Regions from separate parts of the Homo sapiens genome. Here region 1 is linked to region 2. Evidence: fine-mapped expression QTL. A gene starts in region 2. The other region holds a variant in brackets. All regions are shown on one strand. Distances are from middle to middle.

Region 1 (12,803 bases), 170 kb before region 2:
AGGCACAAGAATCGCATGAACCCAGGAGGCGGAGGTTCCTGTGAGCCAAGATCGCACCATTGTACTCCATTCTGGGTGACAAGAGCGAAGCTCCGTCTCAAAAATAAATAAATAAATAAATAAATAAATAAATAAATAAATACCCAAAAGTGGGACTGCTGGATCATATGGTAGTTCTATTTTTAATATTTTGAGGAACTTTCACACAGTTTTCCACATTAGCTGTACCATTTTACATTCCCACCAACAGTGCACGGGGTTTCCAATTCGCTCTCATTCTTGCCACACGTATTTTCTGGTTTTGGTGTTTTTTGTTTTTGTTTTCTATAGTGGCCATCGTAACAGGTATGAGGCAGCACCTCATTGTGATTTGGTGATATATATATATATACATCTAGATTTTGTCCACAGTTCCTGGTTCACAGCTCCCATAGCTCTTGCTAGAATGCTGGAGTGCTGCAATCCTCTGAAGCAGGCCTCATTGAAAAAAGAATCTCTTGGCTGGGTGTGGTGGCTCATGCCTGTAATCCCAGCTCTTTGGGAGGCCAAGGTGGGTGAATCACGAGGTCGGGAGTTCAAGACCAGCCTGGCCAACATGGTGAAACCCCGTCTTTACTACAAATACAAAAATTAGCCAGGTGTGGTGGCGGGCGCCTGTAGTCCCAGTTAGGAGGCTGAAGCAGGAGAATCGCTTGAACCTGGGAGGCGGAGGTTAGTGTGAGCGGAGATCACTGCACTCTAGCCTGAGCAACAGAGCAAGAATCCGTCTCAAAAAAAAAAAAAAAAACTCTCTCTCTCTGTTTGACCTTCTCCTGCTCTCCTTTCACCTGCTTCTTTTTCTCACCAAGGCAGGAATCTTCCCCTACCTTTCTGTATTGAAATTGGCCATAAAGAAACTCTCTGACATACCTTGTCTGAGTGTAGTTGATGACACCTTCATTTCGGTAGGACTCCTGCCCATACCCTGGAGGAAGGAAAGCTGCACAGAGAGGCCAAGGAGTTGCTGAACACAAGGGCCTTGCTGGGGTTCCCCATTCAGGGTATTAGTATTAGATCGTGCCCTTTTTGACCAATCACCTTTCTACACATTTGTCCATGCTTGAGTCATGCCTATCCAATTAAGTCTCCATAAAAGGCCAAAAGGACAGGGCTTAGGGAGCTTCCGGATAGCTGACCATGTGGAGGTCATACAGGAGTTAAGAAGAAATTACTTAGGCAGATAGTAAGGGTACAGAAGTCTTTGGTAAGGTTCTCCTTTTAATGAAAAGCAGCCCCAAATTATTTTCCTTTCTAACGAAGAGTAGCCTGTAAAATCGAGCTGCAGACATAGATGTTGGCAGTTGTGCCAATCATGTTCAAGATGGTGGCTCCATCTTCCCTTCTCTTTGTCAGCCACGTGTACAGTAAAGAGCAGACAAGATGGCGAAGGCCAAGGGGAAAGTTCATTTGCATAATATGATTAGGGTGAGGCAGCCAGCCTTCCCTGCATGCTATGTAATATCACTCTTGATCAAACCAATCTGTGAGTCCTATGTAAATCAGGCACCACATCCTCAAATCTGACTATAAAATATGGCACATCCCCCACCTGCTGGTCTTTTCCTCTCAGAAGTCCCCACTCTCACTAAAGAGAGAGCTGTGCCAGACATGGTGGCTCATGCCTGTAACCCCAGCACTTTGGAAGGCCGAGGCGGACGGATCACGAGGTCAGGAGATCGAAACCATCTCTGGCTAACACAGTGAAACCCCATCTCTACTAAAAATACAAAAAATTAGCTGGGCGTTGTGGCATGCACCTGTAGTCCCAGCTACTCAGGAGGCTGAGGCAGGAGAACGGCATGAACCTGGGAGGCGGAGCTTGCAGTGAGCTGAGATCTCTGCCACTGCACTCCAGCATGGGTGGCAGAGGAGACTCTGTCTCAAAAAAAAAAAAAAAAAAAAAAAAAAAAGAGGGAATCATGGAAACCCCAATTTGAAGCCAGTCGGTCAGAAGTTCTGGTGTGTGTAGGGGTGCAGTCTTGTGGGATTGAACCCTCAACTTGTGGGATCTGATGCTATCTTCAGGTAGATAGTGTTGGAATTGAATTGGAGGACACTCAATTCAGAATTGTCCATTGGAGAATTGGTTGTTTGCTTGGTGTTGGCAGGAGTTCCCCCCAACATTTGGTCACAGAAGACTTCTTTTTTTTTTCTTTTTTCTTTTCCTTTTCTTTTCTTTTTTTTTTGAGACCAAGTCTCACTCTGTTGCCCAGGCTGGAGTTCAGTGGTGTGATCTCTGCTCACTGCAACCTCTGCTTCCCTGGTTCAAGCATTTCTCCTGCCTCAGCCTCCCCAGTAGCTGGGATTACAGGTGCCTGCCACCACACCTGGCTATTCTTTTTGTGTTTTTAGTAGAGATAGGTTTTCACCACGTTGGTCAGGCTGTTCTTGAACTCCTGACCTCGTGATCCACCCACCTTGGCCTCCCAAAGTGCTGGGATTACAGATGTGAGCCACCGCACCCAGCCCGGTCACAGAAGACTTCTGTAGTGATTGTTACTGTGGTGTGAGAGCCAAGAAAAAAAACAGTTTGTGTTTTTTCTTCAGAGGTTTTGATTTGCATTTCCCTGGCGATTAAAGTTCTGATTTTTTAGTGGGTTCCTTAGGATTTACAGGATCTTATATATTTTCTTTTTTTGTTTTTGTTTTGTTTTGTTTGAGACAGAGTCTGACTCTGTCACCCAGGCTGGAGTGCAGTGGCACGATCTCAGCTCACTGCAAACTCTGCCTACCAGCTTCAAGGGATTCTCCTGCCTCAGACTCTGAGTAGCTGGGATTACAGGTGTGCACCACCATGCCCAGCTAATTTTTTGTATTTTTAGTAGAGACGGAGTTTCACCATGTTTGCCAGGCTGGTCTCAAACTGCTGATCTCAAATGATCTGCCCACTTTGGCCTCCCAAATGCTGGCATTACAGGCATAAGCCACCACGCCCGGCCTTGGATCTTGTATATTTTCTATATACAAGATCATGTAATCTATAGATAGTTTCACTTCTTTCTTTCCAATCTAGATGCCTTTTATTTCACTTTCTTGCTTAATTTTCCTGGCTAGAATCTCCAGTACAATACAGAATAAAAGTGGTAAGAGCGGACTTCCTTGTCTTATTTTGATCTGTCAGGAACTTTCACCATTAAGTATGATGTCAGCTGTGGGTTTTTCACAGATGCTCTTTATCAGGTAGAGGAAGTTGTCTTTTACTTGTAGTTTGTTGCATGGTTTTTTTCTTACGAAAGAATGTTGAATTTTGTCAAAGTTTTTTTCTGCATTTATTGAGATGATTAATTGCTTTTTTCCATTTATTCTAAAATTATGGTGTATTAAGTTAATGTATTTTCAGATATTGAACCAGCCTTGCATTCCTGGGATCATTCGCACTTGATCATGGTGTACTGTCCTTTTGATGTGGTGCTGGATTCTGTCTGCTGGTATTTGAAGATTTTTGCCTCTATATTAATAAGAAATACTGATCTGTAGTTTCCTTTCTTATGTCTGGCTTTGGCATCAGGGTAATACTGGCCTCATAAAAAGAGTTGGGAAATGTTGCCTCTTCTTCTATTTTTTGAAAGAGTTTATGAAAAACTGGTATTAATTTTTCTCTAAATGTTTAGTTAAATACAGCAGTGAAGCCCTGTGGGCATGAGCCTTTGTGGAAGTTTTTGTTTTTGTTTTTGTTTTTTCTCTCGAGAGGGAGTCTCGCTCTGTTGCCCAGGCTGGAGTGCAGTGGCACGATCTCATCTCACTGCAAGCTCCACCTCCTGGGTTCACACCATTCTCCTGCCTCAGCTTCCCATGTAGCTGGGACTACAGGCACCCACCACAATGCCTGGCTAATTTTTTTTTAGTAGAGACGGGGTTTTACGGTGTTAGCCAGGATAGTCTTGATCTCTTGACCTCGTGGTCTGCCCACCTCGGCCTCCCAAAGTGCTGGGATTACAGGCATGAGCCACCACGCCAACCTGTGGGAAGTTTTTTATTACTACTTCAATCTATTTACTTGTTATATGTCTATTCAGAATTTCCATTTCTTCCTGAAATTTGGTAGGTTTTTCTTGTTTTTCTAGGACTTTGTCCATTTTTCTAAGTTGTTTAATTAATTGGCATACAACTATTTATTGTATTCCTTTATAATACTTTTTATTTCTTTAAGGCTCATAGTAATGTCCCCAAGGTGTCTAATAAGAGGTCAGCTCTAGTTAAGTGGAGGCTGAAATAAATCATTTGAACCTCAAATAACTTTGGGGGAGGTCAGGTACTACATATATATATATATATATTTTTTTTTTTTTTGAGATGGGGTCTCACTCTGTTGCCCAGGCTGGAATGCAGTAGTGTGATCTTGGCTCACTGCAATCTCTGCCTCCCAGGGTCAAGTGATCCTCCCACCTCAGCTTCCCAAGTAGCTGGGAGCTGAGAGCACAGGCATGCACCACCACACCCGGCTAATTTTTTGTATTTGTTGTAGAGACCGGGTTTTGCCATGTTGCTCAAGCTGGTGTTGAATGCCTGAGCTCAAGTGATCCACCTAGCTTGGCCTCCCAAAGTGTTAGGATTACAGGCGTGAGCCACTGTGACCAGCCTAGTACTACATTTTAAATCTTTCATTTTTGCTGACATGAAAAGCTATTTATCTGTAAAAGTGGAACCTATCAATTAATCAGATTAAGCAAAAACTTTACATGTGGTCTGTCCAGAATAGGCAAATCCATGGAGACAATAATTAGATTAGTGGTTGCCAGGGACTTGGGGAGTAGGGAGGGGACAGGGAGTGGCTGCCAATTAGTATAGAGTTTCTTCCTGGGGTGAAAATATTTTGGAATTACATAGTGGTGACAGATGAACTTTGTGAATCAACTAAAAACCAAACCCACCAAACTGTACACTTTGAAAGGGTAAACTTAATGGTGTATGTTTTATATTCCAATAAAGCTGTTATTTTTTAAAAAGGTTATATGGGCCAGGCGCAGTGGCTCACACCAGTAATCCTAGCACTTTGAGAGGCTGAGGCGGGCGGATCACTTGAGGTCAGGAGTTCGAGACCAGCCTGACCAACATGGTGAAACCTCGTCTGTACTAAAAATACAAAAATTAGCCAGGTGTGATGGCGGATGCCTGTAATCCCAGCTGCTCGGGAGCCTGAGGCAGGAGACTCACTTGAACCCAGGAGGTGGGGGCTACATTGAGCTGAGATTGCGCCACTGCACTCCAGCTTGGGCAACAGAGCAAGATTCTGTCTTCAAAAAGAAAAAGAAAAAAAAAAAAAAGGTGGCTGGGTGTGGTGGTTCATGCCTGTAATCCCAGCATTTTGGGAAGCCAAGGCGGGTGGATCCCAAGATCAGGAGATCGAGTCCAGCCTCACCAACATGATGAAACCGCGTCTCTACTAAAAATACAAAAAAAATTAGCTGGGTGTGGTGGCACGTGCCTGTAGTCCCAGCTACTCAAGAGGCTGAGGCAGAAGAATTGCTTGAACCTGGGAGGCAGAGGTTGCAGTGAGCCAAGATTGCGCCACTGCACTCCAGCCTGGTGACAGAGCAAGACTCCATCTCAAAAAAAAAAAAAAAAAAAGTTATATGTGAACTCTGTTCCTAATTTTAAGTTATGCTGTATGTTCCTACCTTTCAATGATGGAATATGAAAGGAGAACAAAAAAGGAAAAGAAAAGAGATAAGGGCTCTCTTACTGTCAACTTACTGTATTACCCTTCTAAAATATAAACCGGGCCGGGCACGGTGGCTCACGCCTGGATTCGCAGCCCTTTGGGAGCCTGAGCCGGGCAGATCACCTGAGGCCAGGAATTTGAGACCAGCCTGGCCAACATGGTAAAACCCTCTCTCTACTAAAAATACAAAAATTAGCTGGGCGTGGTGTCACGCACCTGTAATCCCAGCCACTCAGGAGTTTGAGGCAGGAGAATCACTTGAACCTAGGAGGCGGAGGTTGCAGTGAACATAGATTGAGCCACTGCACTCCAGCCTGGGTGACAGAGCAAGACTACATCTCAAAAAAAAAAAAAAAAAGCTGGACGTGGTGGCTCACACCTGTAATCCCAGCACTTTGGGAGGCCAAGGCAGGTGGATCACCTGAGGTCAGGAGTTGGAGACCAGCCTGGCCAACATGTGAAACCCTGTCTCTACTAAAAATACAAAAATTAGTCGGGTGTGGTGGCGGGTGCCTATAATCCCAGGTACTTGGGAGGCTGAGGCAGGAGAATCTCTTGAACCCCACAGGCAGAGGTTGCAGTGAGCTGACATCATGCCACTGCACTCCAGCCTGGACAACAGAGCAAGACTTTGTCTCAAAAAAAAAAAAAAAAAAAAGACCGGGCGCGGGGGCTCACACCTGTAATCCTAGCACTTTGGGAGGCCGAGGTCGGGGGATCACGGGGTCAGGAGATCGAGACCATCCTGGTTAACACGGCGAAACCCCGTCTCTACTAAAAATACAAAAAATTAGCCGGGCGTGGTGGCGGGTGCCTGTAGTCCCAGCTATTCAGGAGGCTGAGGCAGGAGAATGGCATGAACCCGGGAGGCGGAGCTTGCAGTGAGCCGAGATCATGCCACTGCACTCCAGCCTGGGCGAAAGTGCGAGACTCTGTCTCAAAAAACAAAGTGATTAAGTTTGAACTGACAAGTAGTTTGTTTTCTCTACTTCTTCTCACTGATCTCCTCCTTTCAATTAATGAGTGCCCAGATAAGCTCTGTCCTCAATCTGTCATGCAGCCTAAGGGTGGCTGCACACATTGGTAAATGAGTTTGATATTCCTGTGGCCCAGATTGCTCAGCCCTTGATCATGTTTTCCTTTTCCTTCACATCCACCTATGATGCTCAAGCATCAGGTACAATCCTGACATCCCAAACTTCTATTTTTTCACCTGTTAACTGGTGCAATCAATGACATCACTCACACCAACCGGGGATGAGGGAAAAGTACAAATTATCACATCCTGTCTATATTTGTAAATGTCTTCATCAACATTCAAATGTGCAAATGTTTTTACTGCAAGGCTCTGAAGCTGACTAACATGATAAAATGCTCTCATTCCTTCTAGCAGAAAATCCAGTCTTCTTATCCCAGCCCTCAAGGTCTTCTTTGCCATCTGCTGCTCCAATTGTTCTCCACACAACTCCTGTTTTTTTTTATTGATACATAATGTATTCCAGGCCAGGCGCAGTGGCTCACACCTGTAATCCCAGCACTTTGAGAGGCCAAAGCAGGTGGATCACCTAACATCAGGAATTCAAAACCAGCCTGACCAATATGGTGAAACCCCATCTCTATTAAAAATACTAAAATTAGCTGGGTGTGGTGGCGGTCGCCTGTAATCCCAGCTACTCGGGAGGCTAAGGCAGGAGAATTGCTTGAAACCAGGAGGCGGAGGTTGCAGTGAGCCAAGATTGTGCAATTGCACTCCAGCCTGGGCAACAGAACAAGATGCTGTCTAAAAAAGAAATATATATATTATATATATCTCACATATATAATATATCACATATATTATATAATATATCACACATATCATATATAATATATATCACATATACCACATATATTATATATGATACATAATATACCACATATATTATATATGATACATAATATATCACATATATTATATATGATACATAATATATCACATATATTATATGTGATACATAATATATCACATATATTATATGTGATATATATCACATATATTATATATGATATATGATATAT[C/T]GCATATATTATATATGATATATGATATATCACATATATTATATATCATATATGATATATCACATATATTATATCATATATGATATAATATGTGTTGCATATGATATATCATATATGTCATATATATATACACCATGCTTATGGGGTCCATGAGAGTATTTGTTACATGCATAGAATGTGTAATGATCAAGCCAGGGTATCTGGGGTACTCATCACCTTGAGTATTTCTCATTCCTATGGGTTGGGAGTAATTCAAGTTCTCTTCTAGTTACTTTGAAATATACAATTCATTGCAGCCAACTATAATCACCCTACTCTGCTATCAGATATTAAAACTTTTTTTTTTTTTTTTGAGACTGAGTGTTGCTCTGTGGCCCAGGCTGGAGTGCAGTGATCTTGGCTCAGTGCAACCTCTGCTTCCCAGGTTCAAGCAATTCTCTTGCCTCAGTCTCTGAAGTAGCAGGGATTATAGGCACCTGCCACCACGCCTGGCTAATTTTTTTTTTTTTCCAGTAGAGGTGGGGTTTCTCCATGTTGGCCATGCTGGTCTCGAACTCCTGGGCTGAAGCAATCCACCTGTGTTCGCCTCCCAATGTGCTAGGATTACAGGTGTGGGCCATCATGCCCAGCCTAATTCTGTTTTATAGTCAAATAGTATTCCATTCTGTATACATACCATAGTTGATTTATCCACTCCTCCATTGATAGATACTTAGGTTGATTCCATATCTTTGCTTTGTGGATAATGTGGATAATGATGTGGTAAGAATATGACAACTCTTTTTTTTTCCTTCAAGACAGGGTCTTGCTCTGTTACCCAGGCTGGAATGCAGTGGTGCAATCACAGCTCACTGTGGCCTTGAATTCCTAGGTTCAAGTGATCCTCCTGCCTTGGCCTCCCAAAGCACTGGGACTATAGGCATGTACCACCACACCTGGCTATTTTTTTAAATTTTATGTAGAGACAGTCTCACTCTGTTGCCCAGGCTGGTCTCTAACTCCTGGCCTCAAGCAATCCTCCTGCCTTAGCCTCCCAAAATTTTGTGATTACAGACATGAGCCACCATGCCTAACCAAGACAAGGTTTACTTTTAAAAAGTTAGAAGGGGCCAGGCACAGTGGCTCACGCTTATAATCCCAGCACCTTGGGAGGCCGAGGCGGGCAAATCACCTGAGGCCAGGAGTTCAAGACCAGCCTGGCCAACATGGTGAAACCCTGTCTCTACTAAAAAAAAAAAAAAAATTAGCCAGGCATGGTGGCAGGCGCCTGTAACCCCAGCTACTCGGGAGGCTGAGGCAGGAGAATCGCTTGAACCCAGGAGGCAGAGGTTGCAGTGAGCCAAGATCACACCATTGCACTCCAGCCTAGGTGACAAGAGTAAAACTCCACCTCAAAAAAAAAAAAAAGTTAAAAGGCATCAGGTTAAAGATAGTAGACTAAACACATGTATTTACTTCTGTTCTTGCCCCAAACATAATAAAATGGCAGTAAGAGAATCTTTCTAATGCCACACACCCACAGGAAGAGTAAGAATAGGAAAGAAGACAATACGAACAAAAATGTTTAAGCCAGGTACTAATAGAGGGACTCATGGTAACCAATTTACTAGAACCAAGGAAGTGGAATCGAGCTGGCATTGGAAAAAATGAGAAATTGCTAGGTTTTCTTTGCAGAAGCCACAAAAGACATAGAAATTGGCACCTTCAGGCAGGAATTGGAAGAATCTTCTGAAGGGACTGTGATCAAGCCAAGAGGAAAGTCCTGAAGACACTGACATCAGGAGCTCCCTGGGAAGCCACCAGCAAGGTCACCCCCTAGCACACAGTGCCACACAGTGGAGAGAGGTTTTTTTTTTGTTTGTTTGTTTGTTTTTGAGATTGGGTCTCACTCTGTCACCCAGGCTGCAGTGCAGTAGCACAATTACAGCTCACTGCAACCTCAAACTCGTGGGCTCGATCGTCCTCCCACCTCAGCCTTCCTGGTATCTGGGACTACAAGTGTGCACCACCGTGCCTGATTTATTTTTTTTCTTATTTTTTTTTGAGATGGAGACTTACTCTGTCGCCCCGGCTGAAGTGCAGAGGCACGATCTCAGCTCACTGCAACCTCTGCCTCCCTGTTCAAGTGATTCTCTTGCCTCAGCCTCCTGAGTAGTTGGGATTACAGGCATCCACCACCACGCCTGGCTAATTTTTGTATTTTTAATGGAGATGGGGTTTCACCATGTTGACCAGACAGATCTCGAACTCCTGACCTCATGACCCGCCCGCCTTGGCCTCCCAAAGTGCTGAGATTACAGGCGTGAGCCACCATGGTCAGCTTTATTTTTTTATTTTTTGTAGCGATGAGGTCTTGTTATGTTACCCAGGCTGGTCTTGAACTCCTGGACTCAAGAGATCCACCTGTCTTGGCCTCCCAAAGTGCTGGGATTGCAGGCATGAGCCACTGTGCCCTCAGCCTGGGGAACTTTTAAAAGGCTTTTAATAGCTCCAGCTTTAGTATGCACAGACCCCCAAGATTCACCACGTTTGAGGAAGGCATCCAATATAGAAGACAGGTTCGGGAGCGGTGGCTCACACCTGTAATCCCAGCACTTTGGGAGGCCGAGGCGGGCGGGTCATGAGGTCAGGAGTTCGAGACCAGCCTGGTCAACATGGTGAAACCCCGTCTCTACTAAATATACAAAAATTAGCCAGGCATATGGTGGCGGGCACCTGTAATCCCAGCTACTCAGGAGGCAAAGGCAGGAGAATCACTGGAACCCGGGAGGCGGAGGTTGCAGTGAGCTGAGATCTCGCCATTGCATTCCAGTCTGGGCAACAGAGCAAGACTGTCTCAAAATAATAATAATAATAATAAAGACAGAGGCTGAAAGGGTGAATGGATAAACAAACTGTGCTACCTACATACAGTGGAATATTATTCAGAATTTTTTTTAAAATAGGAAATTTTGATACATGCTACAACATGGCTGAACTTTGAGGACATTATACTATGTGAAATAACCCTGTCCCCAAAAGACATATACTGCATGATTCCACTTATGTGAGGTACCTGGAGTCAGAGTCATAGAGATAGAAAGTAGAGTGATGGTTGCCAGGGGCTGAGGGGAGGGGAGAGAGGGGAGTTGTTGTTTAGTGGGTTCAGAGTTTCAGTTTTGCAAGATGAAGAGTTCTGGAGATTGGTTGCACCACAGTGTGAATGTACTCAACACCACTGAACTGAACACTAAAAAATGGCTCAGATGGTACTTTGGGAGGCCGAGGCGGGTGGATCACCTGAGGTCAGGAGTTGGAGACTAGCCTGGCCAACATGGTGAAACCCCATCTCTACTAAAAATACAAAAATTGGCCAGGCGCACATCTGTAATCCCAGCACTTTGGAAGGCCAAAGTGGGTGGATCACCTGAGGTCAGGAGTTCCAGACCAGCCAGGCCAGCATGGTGAAACCCTGTCTCTACTACAAATACAAAAATTAGCCGGACGTGGTGGCACACACCTGTAATCCCAGCTACTCGGGAGGCTGAGGCAGGAGAATTGCTTGAGCCTGGGAGATGGAGGCTGCAGTGAGTGGAGATCGTGCCACTGCACTCCAGCCTGGCCAAGAAAGCGAGACTCTGTCTCAAAAAAAAAAAAAAAAAAAAAGGTACATTTATGTTGTGTGTATTCTACCACAATCACAATTAACTTTTTATTTATTTATTTTTTTTTGAGACGGAGTCTTGCTCTGTCACCCAAGCTGGAGTGCAGTGGTGCAATCTCGGCTCACCGCAACCTCCACCTTCTGGGTTTAAGCAATTCTCCTGCCTCAGCCTCCCGAGTAGCTGGGATTACAGCCTTGTGCCATCACGCCCGGCTAATTTTTTGTACTTTTAGTAGAGACGGGGTTTCTCCATGTTGGTCAGGCTGGTCTCAAACTCCTGACCTCAGATGATCCGCCTGCCTTGGCCTCCCAAAGTGCTGGGATTACAGATGTGCGCCTGGCCAATTTTTGTATTTTTAGTAGAGATGGGGTTTCACTATGTTGGCCAGGCTAGTCTCTAACTCCTGACCTCAGGTGATCCACCCGCCTCAGCCTCCCAAAGTGTGGGATTACAGGCGTGCAGGCGTGAGCTACCACACCCAGCCTACAATGAGTGCATTCTTTTTTTTGAGACAGAGTCTAGCTCTGTTGCCCAGGCTGGAGTGCAGTGGCACAATCTCGGCTCACCACAACCTCTGCCTCCCGGGTTCAAGTGATTCTCCTGCCTCAGCCTCCAGAGTAGCTGGGACTACAGGCGTGCAAGACCATGCCCGGCTAATTTTTGTATTTTTAGTAGAGACAGGGTTTCACTATGTTGGCCAGGCTGGTCTCGAACTTCTGACCTCATGATCCATCCACCTTGGCCTCTGAAAGTGCTGGGATTACAGGCGTGAGCCACTGTGTCTGGCCATGAGTGCGTTCTTATAAAGCCCAAAACAGGCAGGAACTAAGCCTGTTTAGAAATGCATACATGGTGCAGCTGGGCGAGGTGGCTGATGCCAGTAATCCCAGCACATTGGGAGGCTGAGGCAGGAAGATCACTTGAGCTCAGGAATTCAAGACCAGCCTGGGCAACATTGCAAGACCCTGTCTCTACAAAAAATTTAAAAATTAGTCGGGTGTAGTGGCACGCATGTGTAGTCCCAGCTATTCTGGGGGCTGAGGTGGGAGGACTGCTTGGAGCCCAGGAAGCTGAAGCTGCAGTGAGCTGTGATTGCACCACTGCACTCCAGCCTCCGGTACAGAGCAAGACCCTATCTCAAAATAAAACAAAACAAAATAATATGAAATAAAACCAATAGAAAATGGAATATGTTTGAATGTGATAAAGGATTGACATCTCAAGGTAGCATTCAGGATTGAACTAGTGTTACATAGCAAAAAAACACAGCAGCTAAAATGTGACATAATGAACTCAGTGTGGTGGAGGGGAAAGAAGGAACAAACAGTGCAGGGAAGAAGTGTTTGTGGAAAGGGCATGGTTCAGCTGTGAACAGTGTTTACATAGCTATAGGATATAGA
Region 2 (12,803 bases):
GAAGAGACTGGAGAGATCACTGCAGGAGGCTGTTGATAAGAGAAACTAACAGCAACTCTTAGGCAACTGTTTTGTGCCTGGCATTGTGTTGGAAGCCTTATAAAGGTTACCTACCTCATTAAAGAATTGTTTCAATAGTGCTGGCTGACAGAGATGAGAACCTTGGCATGGCTTCAAGGCCTTAGGAACTCACTTGGACCTAACTCTCTGGCCTTATCCTTCAATATTCTCTGCATTACATGCTAGGTTCCAAATAACTGAAGCTAGTCCCAGTTCCCCAGGCCTGCACTTACCTCTAGGCCTCTCACATGCTGTTCTCTCTGCCTGGAAAGCTCTTCCCTACATTCTGCAAACAGCTATTATTTATCTTGCAGGTTGGCTTCAATATTCTCCTACAAGGAGGCCTTCTTCAGCCCCTAAACTAGGTCAAGTCCCCTGTTTTACATTTGAACCGCTCCTGTAACTTCTCCACACAGCGTTCATCACATTGAAAGAAAACATGCCTGCCTGGTTTCCCTAAATCAAATGTAAGTTCCATGAGGGCAGGATTTTCATTCACTGCTATCCCTCCAGAATCACAGTCCATGGCACAGCACATGGTGGGCACTAAGAAAAGATTCAGAACCAGGGTAGTGGACAGGAAGAGATGAATGCTACAAAATCTCTAGGCCTAAGAGCTGGCAGAATTTGCCAGCTGCCTGTATTGGGCTCCAGGGTAGAGTCACAACGGACAGGAACTTGGAGGCCTGGGATCCCATCCCTAGGAGAAGGGGGTAGTCCGGAGTCTGGGAACTAACAGGAAAGAATGGAAAAGATGATGAGGGAACAGGGAGGATGTTCTTACCCAGCTCGATGCAGGTTATCCCCAAGGACCAGACGTCCACTTTGCCATCGTACTGCCCCTCATCCATGGCCAGGATCACCTCGGGTGCCATCCTAGGAGAATGGTCAGGAGAGAGAGGCAAATCACCCGCCGAGACCCTGTCACTCCTACTCCCAACATCCCTGGGAGGTCTCTCCACTCACCACCACTCACTCACTCACCAGTATGGGGTGCCCACGAAGGAGTTGGCAGGTGCCATGATGGACGCAGAACCAAAGTCCCCTAGCTTCACTAACCCTGGCTCTGACAGCAGGATGTTTCCAGCCTTCACATCCCTGCCAGAGGCAAAGTACAGGGATGAGACATGTGTCTCAAGAAAGCTAGGCAGGGGCAGCCCAGCTAAGTGACAGGTGGTGCAGATAGCACTCCCCTCCCAGGCACTGCCGGTGCTGCTTGTACCTATGGATCATGTTGTGGGAGTGCAGATATGCCAGGCCCTGAAGCGCCCCGTGGGTCACAGCTGCGATCTCTACCTCCTGAAGGGGTTTCTTGTGCACTGGAGAGTGAGGAAGAACATCAACCCGAGGGAGCGCAAGGGTGGGACTGGAATAAACTCCCCTTAACCCTTCCCTATGGCTCCCCTGCTCTTCTCCCTTCTCCACTTATTGGCCTATCAGTCACTTACCTTCTAGAAGGTCAGAAGCTGAGCCCAGGCAATACTCCATTACCAGCTAAGGAAGAGACAAGGGTCAGAGATCAGAGTCTCCTGGGCAGGGACTCAAAACAGAGCTTCCTTGACTGTCCTGTACTCAAGCTATGTCCCCGGGGTGATGACAGGGAGGAAGCGCAACTGGAGACAATGAGGGGGTGGTGGGAGAGTTTCTAGAGTCTGGGCCCAAGACATTCACCACTGCCCATCTGAATCCCTTCAAACTCCCATTCAATCTCCACCTTCTCCAGCCCACAGTGACCTGTCCCACCTGCTAACAGCCTGTGTCACTGAGCCAGGCTTTTGCTCAGTGGGTATGTCTGAGGACTAAAGCGGTCAAAAGAGACTTCCTCCTTCCCAAGATCCCACAACAGCACCACGAACAGGGACCACCTAAGAGACTGGACTACGATAAGGACGGGCATGAATAGGAGTAAAGATCAGGCCAGAATCTGGCACCAGCTCACCCAAGCCGTGTGCTCCCTCAGGTAACAGCCCCGGTACTGAATGGTGTTGGGATGCCGGAGCTTCTGTAAGAACCGCACCTCCTTGATGATGTCTTGCCATTTCTAGGGGGTCAGGGTAGGCAGAGGTTACCCAGCTTGCATCTTGAGACAGGAGTCCCCTGTCCCCAACCTGGCTGTATTGCACCTGGCCCACCTCATTGGACTGCTTCCCACTGTAGGACATCTTCTTGATGGCCACCACCTCACTATTCCGGACATCCCGGGCCTAGAGGACCAGACCAGAAGGTGTTGAAGGCCCCATTGAGAGCCGGGCATGGGAAGACTTGCTGGCCCAGCAAGAGAAGGCAGGAAAGACCAGTGTGATGGAGTAGTGTGCAAGGGCTGTTGGGAAGTCCACAGGGATAGGAAGAGTCCCCATCCCTATTACACCCTCCCAAGACCCAACTCACAAAGTATACGGCTCCAAAGCTGCCATGGCCAATTTCCCGGAGGTCAGAGAAGAGCTTTTCTGGGTCATCCTTGAAGAAGAGCTCAGCCACATCTGGGTCCTTCAGGCTCCCGGCCCGGCCCCCAGCTGGCATGGTGGCCCCTGGGGGCCCTGAGAGTGGGGCCTGGCCTGAGGAATGGAAATGGGACCCTTAGAGATCAAGGATTGAGCCTTCAGGGAGAGGAAGGGACCCATCAAGTTTCTGCCATCTCCTCCCCTCATTCCCTGATGAGGAGGAGGCACTGCTGAGGAAGGGGAGGGGGAGATTAGGAACAACATCAAAGCTCCAAAAAATGAAGTTGCCCTGGCAACCAGATCACGCGGGCTGGGTCCCTGGAGTCCCTAAAACTGCTAGGAAGATTCTGGGAAGCTAAGTATCCTCACCACCCCCTTCAGTGCTCAACAAGTTCTCATTTCCCTATAGCCCCTGTATCTCCCCTCAAGGATAAAACATTCTGCTTCCCAGCCAGCACTCCAGAGCCCCAAGTGTCCTGTCCCATAAGTCCTATACCCCAACTGTTTCCAGGCACCTTTCTGTTCCCCTTGGCGCTGAGGCCCCCTCCTCCCTCAACCTCTCACACCCTGGAAGAGAACAGGAAATGGCCAGGCCGGAGGCGGTGGAAATCCGTCCATTGTTAGAAGTGGGTACTGGCCCAGAGGAGCCCGCAAAGTCACTCTCAAAAAAGTCAGGGGGAGATCTAGAATGGGAAGAATAGGGATATAAATGGCATCTGGCTATGAGGGCCTCTCTGTGCTCTGGGCCACCTTACTTGTCCTGTCCAACTGCATAAGCATCACACACAGGTACAGGACATTTGCAGGGTACAAATAACATTTACTGAGTACCTTACGTGCATTATCTCTATTCAGTCCTCACTACAACCTTATGAAGCAAGTACTATGATTTCCCCTATCTTACAGATAAAGAAACAGGCTCAGCAAGGTTAAGTGCCTTGTCCAAAGCTGGTCCTCCATCACTATGATTTCAGAGCAGCCCTTCGAAACAGGCAGGGCAGAATCATGATCACCATTTCCTAGGTGAGGTCACTGAGGCACAGAGAAGAAAAAGGACTTCTCCAAGGTCAGAGAACAGGACCTTCGGCTCCCCGGTTAGGCCTGTATCCATTACTCTCTCAGCTGTCACCCCAAGCTCAGCTCCCCTCTTGCAGGAAGCCTGTCCTGACCACTCCAGCCATTGGGAAGAGCACCTAGGGCACCCAACCAAACACCCGGAGAAAGTTCCTGCAGGATACCAGAACCAAAACCCTCAAGGAGATTCCAAGACAGGCTCCAGCCTAAGCACTTGTCAGAATTTAGGCACAAAGGAGCCTTCAGCAGAGCTGGACTCCTGGGGCAGAGTTCTAGCTACTCAAAAGCACCTAACAATTTTAGCATGTAATTTATTCTGTCATGCATTGTTTCCTGTTGTGTTGTTAATTTTGTCTCAGCCCAACTGGAAGCTGGAGGGCAAGGAGGGAGCCTGACTCTCCAGTGGGCCCCCAGGGTGCAGAGGGCTCAGAATAGCCTGGGAGACTGAGTGATTGCTCTCTGCTCAGCCCTCAGCAGCTCGCAGGTTGCTCAAAGCCGGCCCTTTTCTCCCTTCTGCCAGCAACAGTGCCAAGCACCCCTCACCAGCACCACACACCCACACACAAAGGCAGGTGCTCTCAACTTGCCAAAGGAATCTTCCTGACCTCTTTACCAACACAAGGCCCCAGAATGCTAACCTAGGCCACACGGAGGGGTGCCACCCACTGGCAAAACATCATGCAGGTCCCCTTCCCCATAATAACAACAAACACTTGAACAATAACCAAGGTCTGTGCTAAATCATAACCACCTTCCAAAACGAACAATGTTATCTCCATTCTACAGATGAGGAAACCCGTATCTATCTGTTCCTAAGCTATGCTACCAGTACATCCCGTCTGCAATGTACAGCAACAGGGCTTTAAATAAGTTCCTTCCAGTTCTTGGTCTTCTCTTCAGTGAAATGGATTACAGCATGGAGCTGTTGTTAAGATTTTAATGAGATCTCATACTTAGGAACACCATGCAGACACTCAGCATATGGATTTTTCCTTCCCTGCCTCCAAGGTCCCCACAAAGCTTTAATCCTTTGGGGGATCATTCTACCCCAACAGCTTGGCTTGAACAGTTAAAAGATGCCACTAGTGCTACCATTTGTCAGGAGAGAGCCCTCTCAGGAATCCAGGCCAAACCCTGGGATTGGGGTAAAGATGAAGGTCACAGTGGATAGAAAACTCCATGAGGCAGAGGCAAAAGCCAGAGGCTCCCATCAGGAAAAGCTTCTGAGTAGAGCCCTCCTGGAAAGGAAGCTCATCTCATCCCCATTCTTAAACCTCACCCCAGCCTGGACTCCTAGGGACCCCTGGCCGAGCCCAAACTCAGAGGAAAAGAGATGGCAAGAACCAGGCATGCATCAGGGAAAGATGTGATTGAGGACTTGAGTTCAAATTCTGGTTCTGCCACTGTGTGACCTTGGGCAACCTCTCTCGGCCTCAACGTTCTCAACTGTAAAATGGGAAGATGCCAATAAAAGAGGCCCCCACAGGGTGAATGCGGGGATGTCACATGAGAGAATGGCTGTCAAAGCACTTTGTAAAAGACAGATCGTTTGACAAATGGATGAGATTATTGACACCATCACAGCAAGAGGTTGGAAGGTAACTGCAGCTGGGGGAAAACATTGCCAGGCACCTCCAAGCACACACACACACGCATACACACAAACACATATACACACACTTCCTTGCAAGGACAAGAAATCCAACCAGACCAGGCCTGAAAAGCAGATAAGCAGACCCACCATGGGAATCAGAGGCATGGGAATCAAAACCACAGAATAGCCAGGAGAACGGGACATATCAGGGAGGAGAGGTGGCTGTGAGGGGCAAAGTGAAGGAGAGAAGACTGAAGTGCAAATCCATCTGATTAGCTGAAGCACCCTAGGGTGTGAACGCCGGTGACATCAGAGACCCTGTCACCTGAGGTCCCCCACCAACCAGACACAATGAAGGGAAGAGGAAGGGGAAGGGGGTGGCAACAGAAGGCAAGGCTAGCCAGAGGCTGACCACTCGCTCAGCTGGGCTTCCCCATCCTGAGAGGGCCTACCCAAGTCCAGCTTCTCAGAAAGGCGCACCCTTTCTTCTCAGAACTAGACACAGGGACCCGCGCCCCTGCACCCCGTGTCTCACCTGGTAGGGGTCACTATGGTGCCCCAGCGCCTCCGCTTCCGCCTGGGGTCCTCCAGCGGCTCTGCCAAGCAGGGAGAGGGGCAAGGAGACCTTTCCCCTTGCCACCTCTTCCTCGGCTTTCGCCCTTCCTGAGGGGCGGGCCCGGGAAGCCTCCCCTGGAGGGGAGGGGGTGACAACCTAATCTGACCTCGCGGTCCAGTCCTCCCCCTCGTCGAGGGCGACAGCTGCCGAATTCCGGATTTCTGATTGTGGGGTCTGAACCCCGAATATCTGAACGGGATGGAGACTGAATCCGATATTTGAACGCCCGGGGAATGAACCCCGGATACTGGTGCACGCAGGGGCCTGAACCTGATATTTGAAATTCTATGAAACAGAGACCCAGGTTTAGAGAGGTTGGGACCCGAGTCCCGGATATCTGGACTATGAGGACTGTTACCCGGGTATCTGAGAAAGGAGGAGGGGCAAAGCCTGGAAATTTGGGACCCAGGGGCCTGAGCTGTAGGTCTTCGGCCACCGACTGGGGGCCCACCCCGAGGACGTCCGGCCGCACGGCCCCTCTCACGCCGGGGTCCGAGGGTGACAGCCCCCACTCCCGCCCCGGCCTCCTCCCTCTCCCTTCTCTCTTCCGAGAATAGCTGAACGATTGTAGCTAAGGTGCTGCTGACGGTCCCCGCGCCCTCTCTGCCTCTCCTCTTCTCCGTCTCAGCCTCTCTCCGCACCACAGCCCCGGTCTCGTCCCGGTCTCCCTCTCCCTCTTCCTCCCAATTCCAAGATGGAGACCGGGCGGGAGCGCGCAGGCGCGGTAGGGACGCCGGGCTAAAGGGGGCGGGGGCGCAGAGGACTCAGCCCCGCCCTCTCTCCTCACTGCCGCGGCCTGGGAGACCGGCAGCCGCCAAGCCCGAGTGCGCGCCCGCCCCGCCACGCGGACCCCAGGCCGGAGGAGGCGGGGAGAAGAGCTAGACTTGCAAGGGGAGGAGCCCGGCACTCTGTCCCACGACTGGCGGTGGACAGAGCTGCAGCGCATGCGCTCGCCCCGCCTTCGCTCTGAGCCCGAGCTTGTTGCTAGGGGAAGCTTTGAGGGGGCGCGGGTGGACGGACAGCAGCGGCGATCTGCGACTGCGCGCAGGGTGGAAGTTGGGAGGGGCAAAGGAAGCTGCTGCTGGGCGCGGAAAAGGCGGGAAAATAGACTGCTCCGAGGTTAGCAACCATCTAACCTGGAAAAGGGCCTCCAAGTGCGAGGAATCTTTGCGCGTCGACGCTGGGAAAACTCAATCGGTCAAATCTCTTACGGAAATTGAGGCGCTGCAGGTTGCAAGACTTGCCAAGGTCACAGTGCATTTATGTCACAGCATTTCCATGACCTGACACCCCACCCGCCCAACTAACTGTAATTATCCATTTTATTTCGTAGAAGAAAACAAGACAGGTGTTTACCAAAGCCAAGTCAACCATGGGGAGAGCTCAAGTAACCTATGCCCTATGCCAACCTGTGTCCAAACTAGAGAGTCAACAGGAAAGAGTCCCCCAAAACTTCTAAGCCTGCCTACCCTAAAATCCCCACCTCAATCCAACCCCCAATAAACACCATACACGCCACTGGGCAAAAAAGCTTTTTATTTTCCCCCACATTCCAGCTCTTCACTTTTTCTAAAACCTTTTCCAACTCAGAGCCAAGGCCCAAGAAGTTGATTCACACCTGGGGAGAAAGAAAATAAAACAACAAAACAGGTCGAAGAGCTGCTAGAGGAAGCTCTGAGATGTGTGCAGAAATTGAGGAAGGAGCAGAGGGAGTGACAGCTAGAGACCAATACGGGCATTTAATCCCAACTAAGGTAGCCTCAGGACCCCAGGGTCTGTCAGGGGCCAGGAAGCCCTCCTTTCCCAGTCCAAGGTTGAGAGGGTCCTGTCATTTCCTGTCCCAAGTAGGTGGTTGGGGCATTTAGGCCCAGCCATCAGCAAAATAAGCACAGTTGATCTTGAGCTTCCACTTCCTCTGGCCTGATCAGTTCCCTGGGCCTCAACTATTTCCACTTTTCCCATAGTAACTTCCTAGGGCACTGCAGCCAGCTGAAGCTGAGACCAGTTCAAGAGCTGGATGCATAACACATGGCTCTCAAATTTCATGCACCCCCCTCTGACAAGTGAAGATTTTTTGCAGAAATATTTTTTCCTTTAGTGAGCTGATGTGTGAACTGGTTAACCAACATGACCCCCACCCACTGCTACGTTTGTGAAGCTGATTCCCTCCAAAGATCTTGTTAACGGAATCAGCTTTTTCTAAAGGTAACGATGACTAAATGGAAGACAGAAGGTGCATGTCAAGTTCTTGGGCACATACTATGTCCCCAGTAAATGAGTATCATCAGTTAGACTCTTCTGAGCGGTTCAAGTTGAATTTTACAAAATTTCCATCATAAAACTGGGTATTGGAATTTCAGGACAAAAGCAAGACAAACATGGTTCATATTCAGGACAAATCATCAAATGTGAACCCTCTTAACTCACCATTGTTACCCAAATGCTTGGATGTGAACTAGTTATGAGTCTTAAAATCACAATGTTGCTTGAAAGAAGTCAGCCACAAAAGAATGTGTATGATTCTGTCTACATAGTTTCAAAAATAAGTAAAACCAAACTATATTATTTAGGAATACATACATGGCAATACATTATAAAGCAGGACAGTAATTTCTAGGGAGAGAGAGGGCATTGTCAGGAAGGAAGGGACCATGGGGGGTTTCTGGACAGCTGGTAATATTCTACTCAGTGGTATTTATAAGTATCCACTTTATAATAATTTGCCAAGCTGTCCTTTTATACTATTGGACTTTTCTACATAAGTGTTAACTATTTTATAATAAAAAAGTTAAAGTAATTAGAAAAATATTGAATGCTGACGGTGTCAAATTGTTCCCAGTCCCTAAGGGAGAGCTGTGGTTGAAGAGGTTCTCGGGGACTCAGAAGCAGCAGTCTTTGAGGAAAAGTCCAAGGATCTGCTCTACCCCGGTTACAACCCCCACCCCCACCCCATTCCCTGCTCCCGCAGGACTGGAGCAAAGAACCTCACCTGAGAAACAAGTCGGGAACTAGGCCAGTGCCCTCAGAGCCGGGTTCTAGACCAGTGGGACTCCCGGCGCGGGTGGAAGCACATAGCAGTGACACAGCAGAGAAGGCCACAGAAGAGAAGCAGGAAGGAGCCCAAGACCAGCAGCCTGGAGCCACACAGAGCCAGCTCCTCCTAGGGAGGGGTACAGGGAGAGGAGGAGGAGGACATGTTAATCCAGTCCAAGGGCTATAGAAGGAGCCTCCATGAGGGAGAGGGCTCTCCACATCTAGGGAGCAACTGAAGGGAAAATGTTATTTTCATATAAGCTGACATTTGTCTTTTTTTTTTTTTTTTGAGATGGAGTCTTGCTCTGTCGCCCAGGCTAGAGTGCAGTGGCGCGATCTCAGCTCACTGCAAGCTCCGCCTCCTGGGTTCACGCCATTCTCCTGCCTCAGCCTCCCAAGTAGCTGGGACTACAGGTGCCCGCCACCACGCCTGGCTCATTTTTTGTATTTTTAGTAGAGACGGGGTTTCACCGTGTTAGCCAGGATGGTCTTGATCTCCTGACCTCATGATCCGCCCACCTCGGCCTCCCAAAGTGCTGGGATTACAGGCGTGAAACACCGCGCCTGGCCCTTTTTTTTTTTTTTCTTTTTGAGGCAGGGTCTCACTCTGTAACTCAGGCTGGAGTGCAGTAGTGCAATCTCGGCTCACTGCAACCTCCGCCTCCTGGGCTCCAGCGATCTTCCCACCTCAGCCTCCTGAGTAGCTGGGACCACAGGTGTGTGCCACCACGCCCAGCTAATTTTTTGTGTGTTTTTTTGTAGAGATGGGGTTTCACCATGTTGCCCAGGCTCGAACATTTGTCTTGATGGTTTAAAAACTACTTTCTTGCCCAATTATCAACCTGAAACCCCATCATAACTCCATGAGATAGGAAACTTCATTATGATCCACAGTTTAAAGATGTATAAGTGGCTGGGTGCGGTGGCTCACACCTGTAATCCCAGCACTTTGAGAGGCCGAGGTGGGTGGATCACGAGGTCAGGAGATTGAGACCATCCTGGCTAACACAGTGAAACCCCATCTCTACTAAAAATACAAAAACTTAGCCGGGCATGGTGGCGGGCGCCTGTAGTCCCAGCTACTTGGGAGGCTGAGGCAGGAGAATGGCGTGAACCTGGGAGGCGGAGCTTGCAGTAAGCTGAGATTGCGCCACTGCACTCCCGCCTGGGCGATAGAGCAAGACTCCATCTCAAAAAAAAAAAAAAAAAAAGTGCAAGCAGTGCTAGATCTGGAAACCAGATCTCTGATTCCAAGTCCCAGGTTGTGCTCCTCATGGGGTCTTTTCTTTTTTTCTTTATTTGAGACGGAGTCTCACTCTGTTGCCCAGGCTGGAGTGCAGTGGCATGATCTCAGCTCACTACAACCTCTGCCTCCCAGGTTCCAGAGATTCTCCTGCCTCAGCCTCCTGAGTAGCTGGGATCACAGACGCCCGCCACAACATCCAGCTAATTTTTAAATTTTTAGTAGAGATGGGGTTTCACCATGTTGGCCAGGCTGGTCCTGACCTCAAGTGATCCACCGGCCTTGGCCTCCCAAAGTGCTGGGATTACAGGCGTGAGCCACCGTGCCTCATGGGGTATTTTCAAATGTGAGAGTGGAGTGTGCAGCAGCCTCCTGACTGATGGCCCTCCTCCACTCAGCCATTCTCCACCCAGCACCAGGGAAGCACATCTCTCTCCTCCTTAAAACTCCTCAGTGGCCCCCACGGCCTTCAGCATCAGGTCATAGCCCTCTATCCTGCATTCACAGAGCCTCTCCATCAAATCCCTGTGGTCTCTCTTGCCTTTTCTCCTTCCTAAGCCTCTCAACATGGAGTGCTCCCAAAGGCTGAACACTTTCTTTTTTTTTCCTTCTTGAGACAGGGTCTCACTCTGGCAACCAGGCTGGAGTGCAGTGGCACAATCATGGCTCACTGCAGCCTCAAACTCCTGGGATCAAAGGATCCTCCCACCTCAGCCTCCTGAGTAGCTGGGACTATAGGTGTGTACCACCACACCCTGCTAATTAAAAAAAAAAATGTTTTTTTTAAGAAATGGGGTCGCCAGGCGCAGTGGCTCACACCTGTAATCCCAGCACTTTGGGAGGCTGAGGTGGGTGGATCACGAGGTCAGGAGATTGAGATCATCCTGGCTAACAAGGTGAAACCCTGTCTCTACTAAAAATACAAAAATTAGCCGGGCATGGTGGCAGGCGCCTGTAGTCCCAGCTACTCGGGAGCCTGAGGCAGGAGAATGGCATGAACCTGTGAGGTGGAGCTTGCAGTGAGCCGAGATTGTGCCACTGCACCCCAGCCTGGGTAACAGAGTGAGACTCCGTCTCAAAAAAAAAAAAAAAAAAAAAAGCGAAAAAGAAACGAGGTCTTGCTATGTTCTCCAGGCTGGTCTGGAACTCCTGGCCTCAGGCATTCTCCTTGCTTCGGCCTTCCAAAGTGCTGGGATTACAGATGTGACACCTGGCTGAACACTTTTCAATCTCTAGGCCTGTGCGCATGCTGGTGCCTTTGCCTGGAGTGTACCTCCCCCTCTCCTGAACCTCCTCTACTGCAGTCCCTGTCCAAATCTTCCTCATTCTTCAAGGATCATTCTGACTTGACAGAAGGTGTGGGTTGCAACCCTGGCTCTGCCACTTAACCAGTTGTGTGGCCTGCAGCAATTCACTCCCTTTCTCTAAACCTGTTTCCTCATCTGTAAAATGGGATAATAACACCTACCTCAAAAGGCTATTTTAAGATCAAATGAATTAATGAACCCTGAGAGCACTTTGTGCATTATAAACCACTGTGCACAATGCTCTCTGGTAAATGCCACCTTCTCTGTGATGCACTCTCCATAAATGTTCAAGTTAGGGTTAATGGCTCCTTTCTCTGTGTTTGCATAACACTTTGCTCACATCTCTCTAATAGCAATTAGCCCATTTGCCTCTTATTATAGCTTCTGAACTCCTTTGAAGTAGAGAGAATGTTTTAAAGACAATAGTAAACAACAATAGCTGTCACTTATCAAATCTCTATGTCCCAGGCAATGTGCTGGGCACTTCACGGTCATTCTCATTTAATCCTTATTTGATGGAATTAAGAGATAGGGTCATGTTTTCTGTTTTACAGATGAGGATGCTGACACTCAGAGATGTTTAGACACTTGTTCTACGTCACACAGCCCCCAAGGCAGGGTTATAAAACCTGTGCTTTTTCTACAAGGTAGAATTGTTTCCAGGGACCTTCAAGATACAGTAGTCAGCAGGCAGTCTACAAAACCCTGGCGACCCATCTGAGGCTCTTACCGAGGTGAGCAGCTTGGTCAGCACAAGGCCTTCATGGCTCCAGACACTAACACATTCCTCACCCATTCTAGGGCTCAGGGTGGCATTTCCAGCCCCCTCCTCTGAGCAGGATATGGGTGGCTGGCTGGAGGGTAGGATTCCTGGAACAGCACTAAAATATAGGCAGGTTCCTGCAGTCCTTTCTGTGGTCACCCTGGCTGTGATAAGGACCAGTTGTCCTGCAGAAGATCCTGTGAAAGGCACAGAAGAGAAAATGGAAGAAAATGAGAGGTGACGCGGGAGCCTCTGTCTTCACGCTTCTTTTCTTGTATTTTCTTTTTTTTTTTTTGAGGCGGAGTCTCGCTCTATCACCCAGGCTGGAGTGCAGTGGCGCAATCTCGGCTCACTGCAAGCTCCGCCTCCCGGGTTCACACCATTCTCCTGCCTCAGTCTCCCGAGTAGCTGGGACTACAGGTGCCCACCACCAGGCCCAGCTAATTTTTTGTATTTTTAGTAGAGACGGGGTTTCACTGTGGTAGCCAGGATGGTCTTGATCTCCTGACCTCGTGATCCGCCCGCCTTGGCCTCCCAAAGTGCTGGGATTACAGGCGTGAGCCACCGTGCCCGGCCCTTTTCTTGTATTTTCTTTCTTTCTTTATTTTTTTGAGATGGGGTCTCACTTTGTCGTGCAGGTTGGAGTGCAGTGGCACGATCCCAGCTCACGGG

Alleles and levels. Alleles are on the strand shown, and positions count from the first base shown. SD is a standard deviation of normalised expression in the study named.
With allele T in place of C in region 1, the expression in monocytes of the gene that starts at base 6,485 in region 2 is higher (moderate effect, 0.72 SD a copy in Schmiedel 2018).

Evidence for each region. PIP is the estimated chance that this variant, and not a neighbour inherited with it, causes the effect.
Region 1: its variant is fine-mapped to the expression of TAOK2 in monocytes (Schmiedel 2018, PIP 0.95).

The regions. Positions count from the first base shown.
Region 1 is chr16:30,140,034-30,152,836 of GRCh38, reverse strand. No RefSeq gene overlaps it. Among named protein-coding and RNA genes, the nearest start is that of MAPK3, 23 kb to the right of the region's middle. The variant C/T (reference allele first, on the strand shown) is at 7,760.
Region 2 is chr16:29,967,550-29,980,352 of GRCh38, reverse strand. TAOK2 (TAO kinase 2) reads right to left here and starts at 6,485. Exons shown (of 16, transcript NM_016151.4): 1 at 5,705-6,485; 2 at 2,449-2,615; 3 at 2,193-2,264; 4 at 2,000-2,101; 5 at 1,509-1,554; 6 at 1,283-1,379; 7 at 1,045-1,158; 8 at 845-936. The coding sequence starts at 2,580. TMEM219 (transmembrane protein 219) reads right to left here. Exons shown (of 6, transcript NM_001083613.2): 4 at 12,099-12,328; 5 at 8,775-8,945; 6 at 7,305-7,403. The coding sequence ends at 8,808. LOC124903762 reads right to left here and starts at 6,731. Exons shown (of 2, transcript XM_047435036.1): 1 at 6,573-6,731; 2 at 5,718-6,356. The coding sequence starts at 6,731. The coding sequence ends at 5,718. RefSeq lists enhancers at 3,592-4,091, 4,092-4,593, 5,395-5,524, 5,231-6,002 and a silencer at 6,426-6,795.